2 separate regions of the Homo sapiens genome follow, and region 2 is linked to region 1. Evidence: fine-mapped expression QTL. Tissue or cell type: tibial nerve. Region 1 holds a variant in brackets; the other region holds the start of a gene. All regions are shown on one strand. Distances are between the middles of the regions.

Evidence for each region. PIP is the estimated chance that this variant, and not a neighbour inherited with it, causes the effect.
Region 2: MICAL3 starts here. The variant in region 1 is fine-mapped to the expression of MICAL3 in tibial nerve (GTEx, PIP 0.92).

What each region holds. Positions count from the first base shown.
Region 1 is chr22:17,877,507-17,880,006 of GRCh38, forward strand. All of the region lies in intron 16 of MICAL3 (microtubule associated monooxygenase, calponin and LIM domain containing 3), which reads right to left. Among named protein-coding and RNA genes, the nearest start is that of LINC00528, 100 kb to the left of the region's middle. The variant C/T (reference allele first, on the strand shown) is at 1,004.
Region 2 is chr22:18,023,463-18,026,208 of GRCh38, forward strand. MICAL3 (microtubule associated monooxygenase, calponin and LIM domain containing 3) reads right to left here and starts at 1,099. Exons shown (of 32, transcript NM_015241.3): 1 at 819-1,099. RefSeq lists a silencer at 827-1,236.

The DNA.
Region 1 (2,500 bases):
AGGTTAGGGAGGTTAGGGAGGTGAGGGAGGTTATGGAGGTGAGGGAGGTTATGGAGGTTAGGGAGGTTAGGGAAGTTATGGAGGTTAGGGAGGTTATGGAGGATGGCAGCAGAGTCCAAGAAAAGAACTTAAGTAGTGTCCTCAAAAGTATCCAGCCTGGAGCCCTGCACTGAGGAGTGCAGAAACCAGTTCAGAGGGAAAAAGAGAGAAACATCTCTGCAAGCCTTATTGCCTCCTGAGCTCAAAAACCCTAACTCATCCCCTCTCTGCACCACAGCCCTAAACTTCAAATTGTTTCTCACTGCCAATCTCTCCTATTCAACATGCTCCCCTCCCTTCTTCTTTTTTTTGAGACCGAGTCTGATTCTGTCGCCCTGGCTCTGTCGCCCAGGCTGGAGTGCAGTGGCGCGATCTTGGCTCACTGCAAGCTCTGCCTCCTGGGTTGATGCCATTCTCCTGCCTCAGCCTCCCCAGTGGCGGAGACTACAGGCACCCGCCACCATGCCTGGCTAATTTTTTTGTATTTTCAGTAGAGACAGGTTTTCACTGTGTTAGCCAGGATGGTCTCGATCTCCTGACCTCGTGATCTGCCTGCCTCGGCCTCCCAAAGTGCTGGGATTACAGGCCTGAGCCACCGCACCCGGCCTTCCCCTCCCTTCTTCTTTTAGGCGCTGTTTCATTAAACATTATCAGCATCTCATTAAATACACAATCTGCAAAATGGAGGGCACTGCCCTGCTCAGTGAAAAGGGCTGCTTTCCTTTTTGAGGGGACACAGCCTGGGAAGAAGAGAGAAAGAGGCTGGGCACACAGCGCCGTGGGAGAGCAGCCCCAGAAAGGGTGAGCACCGTGGGGCGAGGCCATGGAAAGGGGGTGGGAAAGACCCCCACCTCCAGCCCAGTCTCCACTCTCCGACCCAGCACCAGGTTCAGGCAGCACACACATTGCCCGCTGCTAGCCTGGTGAGAGGGCGCAGGAAGATGGCACTATGATTAGCTCCTAT[C/T]GGGTCCGAGGGGTAACCTAATTTACTGCTTGGCCATAACTGCATTTCTCAGAGAGCAAAGGCAGAAGGGAGTTAGAAACCAAAATGGCTTTTGTGAGATTAACAACTAGAGATGATTCTTCCCGCTAGCTGCAGAGCTGTACCCACTTGGAGATCTTTAAGGGTAGGAATAACAAGAACAAAAGTTTCATAAAGTAAGCCGGCTTCTTTAACTGGGCATCTCGGCTATCCCTCACATTGTACGATGGCCAGCTGCAATCAGTAATTTCTCCCCTCAGTGTTTCAGAAAAGACTAAAGCTTTCCACGGGTACAGCCCCATTTTGCCATCACCTACCTTTCTCCCCCTCATTCTCATCCCACTGGAAAAATCCTCACGCTGGTAAGAGCTTTGGCTCTCTTAGGATTTCCACTTCAAGATCCGTGACTGCTGAATGCCACTTGAATACTGATTTAGACCCTCTCCCTAAGAAGTTGTATCTGACAGTCCAATGCTACTACTCTACCACTGGCACATAGTTTGGGGGTAGAAATAGTATGGTCTTGGAAGGGGAACAGTGGGCAGAAATGGGAAGTCATTAAGGCCCTTTACAATACGCACATTTAGGATCAGCATCCCATCTGAATGCCAGATGGGTGACTGCTTTACAGTGAATGCTATTTGCATTGGTCAACACTGCTAGCAAAAAGAATTCTGGCTCTTGGCTGGGTGACAAGAGCGTGCAAAAAGCAAGGGGAGGGGGCCGTCCCCCATATCCCTTCCCGCTGCCCCACCACCACAGCGTGCCCCGTGTGCTTGGCTCTCAGCATCCCATGCCACGGGTTCATGCTCTTTTACCCTCTCATGGTGGGGGCTCTGCTTGCCACGGTTGTCAGCATCAAGATCCCTGTATGTCTGTTGGCAACAAAGTAGAAACTTAAGCTCCATGCATATCGCTCTATTTGGACCTACTAAACGACAGTGGGAAATTCAGGGGCAGAAATGCAGAGTTCAACACATATCGCCTTCCCCTACTAACCCCATCCCCAGGTAACCATAATCCCATCTGTATCAAATCCCATGACACAAGGCCGACTTTCTGCACAGCCATTCCACCCCCCACTGGCCTCCGACGAGGCCAGCTACACGGATCAATGAAGAACTATGGTTAGTACAAAGGTGGAACAAGCATATTTCTTTCACACAGTGGCATAAGATCAGAGGCATCAAATGGAAGGTTTAGAAGGAGAGGCAGGTTAAAAGGGTGACACATTCCACAACAAGACATTTTAGAAAGCAAAGGTGGGGAGGTGGGAATTGGCTAGAATAAATGACTAAGACAGCAGTCCAGAGGAAACTCCAGAGTGGGAAGTGGTTCCTGAATAGGAGCATCGGGCCAAAGCATAATTTACTAAAGGGAGAAGTGAATGTGTTTTTGGCGAATGGACGGGAAGGTATATGTGAAAGGGTAAAGACCTGCAGGTAGGGACATGGCCTTGCTCATCCGAGGAGCCAGAAG
Region 2 (2,746 bases), 150 kb after region 1:
ATCACAGTGCCAGACCAATAAGAAAGCATTTTAGGGAGGAGAGAGGAGGGAAGGGGTTGGCAGGCACGGAGAGGACTTGACACACAGAAAGCATTTTGCTATGGAGTCATAACCATTTGATTCTAAGACACATGCAGCCTCCAGAAGTCATGCGGCCCCGCCCTCTGCTTCCAGGAGGGAATGAACTTGGCCGTCCTTTTGTTGCACACGCCCGGGAGCTGCGCCGGCGCAGCGCGCCCTGCAGCCTGGGAGCGCAAGCGTGTGCGCCACTGGTCCTGGGCCACCACCGCGCGCCGCGGGCGGGTGCAGGGCCCCTCTGCCGCAGGGAAACCGGCGTTCCCCGCGCAAAGCAGCCGCTGCTCCTAATGAGCTCATGGGTTCACCGCGCTGAGCTAGCCAGAGCGGACCCGGCTTCGCCAAGGGCCTGCTGGCTGTCCTGACACCTGGCCTACCTCGGGGGTGCCTGGGTACGCTCTTCCTTTGCCTGCGGGATAGAAGCACAATGAAAATGGGGTGGACGTGGCTGGGAGACAGCCCTGCTCTCTGGCAGGCTCTGGGGAGTGTGTGGTACGTGGCATCCGCACTGGTGGGTGTCGTGCGATGATCGAGACACGGATACTGGGTGTCTTTCCCACTAGGGGAGAGAGGGCTGCGTTTAGAGGGAAACGAAATAGATCCGAGAAACACAAAGATGTCACAAAGGAAACGCTTCCCCACCATAAGCAATCTAAATAAATGATTCTTAGAAGACATCCAGCAAAACACATAACCTTGTCATTTAGATTCGCTCGCCCACAGGGGGACTGGAGGGTACTCACCGACTAGGGCTTCACAGCCGCATCACCGCCGGCGGTGGGCGCCTGCCTCGGCAGGGGCAGGGTGGGTGCCCGCAGGGCACAGGTGCCGCCGTGGCTGCTCGCACAACCCCTGCAGCTGCGATCCCGCCCAGTTAGCCTCGGGGGCTGCACAGCCCAGCCCCCTCGCCCAGGGCCCAGGGGTTCTCAGGCCGCGCGGCGAGGACGGAGGGCTGCCCCGGGTGCCTGCCTACGCGGGCGCTCCCCGCCGGGACTCCGCCGGGGCTGCAGGAGCGCGCGCTGCTGGCTGGGCGGGCTGCGGCTCCGCGCGAGCGCCGTGGCAACGCGAGCGGGCGCCCCCAGGAGGCCGCGGAGCTGCGGCGTGGGACGCTTGGGTGAGGCTCAAGCCAAAACCAAACCCAAACCATTTCTCCTCCTCCCCATCTTTTCATTTTCTCCCCTTCTTTTCATTTTCTCCCCTTCTCCAACCCCTTCCTCGACACACGTTACTAGCACCTCGAAGGTTGGAAATTCCAGCACTCTCCTGAGGCCTCTTCCCCAGCGAATCCTGCTAACCACGCAGTCGGTGTTCGCTGTGTGTTCGAGCACACACCTCCTTGCAGTGGCTTCAGCACCCAGGTCTCCGGGAGCCAGTGAAGGAACCAAGTGTTGGATACTGAGCAAGTCGCGTAACATCTGAGTAGTCGTGAAATTGAAATTTCAACGGTATAAAGGACACGACGTTGTCTTACAGATTGAAAAATGCTATAAAATGAAGTTCTTACTGTTACTATGATGATGACCCTGGAGATCAGCGCAGAGCCCTGGGGGAGGGCTACAGTTGCAAGCGCTCCAAGGATCAGATCGCGCACTCCTCCCCACCGGAGAAAACCTCTTGATGCCGGAGCCCGGGCAGCCTCTTCCACACTTCCAGCCAGCCCCTTCCACACTTCCAGCCAGCCCCGGCATTGCCACAGCCCGTGGAGCTGGACAGAAATCCACCAGGCACTAAAATAAGTTAGATGGAAGACGGGATGGATTTGACCAAATTCCTATCAGCATCTGCTCAGTATAATTGCAACATTATAATCAGAGCAGAAAGAAGCCCAGAGATTATTTTGTCTTCAAGGATCATTGGCCTCAGTATTATCTCCATCTGAAGCTGTGTTGTCCAAAGCAGATTGACTCCAGCCGGCCAGCTCAGAAGAGGGCCGACTCTGGGCTGGCGACTCCTTGAGAAGGGCTCTCTCTGGTCCCAGGTGGTATTTACTTAACCGTATCATCATCTGCTTCATTCGTGTTCCCTTCATGTCCATCATGTGAGGACGGGAACTGACAGGGCCAGGGTGTCGGCTCAGAGGCAATCTCTGCTCATCCTCTAGAGCCCCACTTCATCACCCAGCCACTCTGTCCACTGTCTCCCCACCTACAAACCTGCAGGTGTTCTGCCCCAGTACTAGAATAAGGGAACACATTTTTACTGAGCTCTGACAATGTGACTGGGCTTTTCAGGAGCTATTTCATTTAATTTTTAATGTAAAACATTGTTTTACATATTAAGAACCTAAAAGCACAAACAGTAAGTAACTTGCTTGTGGAAGCTTATGCAGCGAGATAAGTGGTAAAGCTGCAATTCCCAGTTTTGTTTGATGCCACAGCTGAAGGTGCAAGGCCATCTGGGCACGGCCTGAGTGGATATTAGGGAAAAATGCCCTAAAAGGTCCAGAATCTCTAATAATTTCTCCTACTTCTCATTTTATTTTATTTTTGACGCTGGAGTTTTTTTTTTTTTTTTGAGTCAGGATCTTGCTCTATTGCCCAGGCTGGAGGGCAGTGGTGCAATTTCAGCTCACTGCAACCTCTGCCTCCCAAGTTCAAGCGATTCTCCTGCCTCAGCCTCCTGCATAGCTGGGACTACAGGCATGCACCACCATACCCAGCTAATTTTTGTG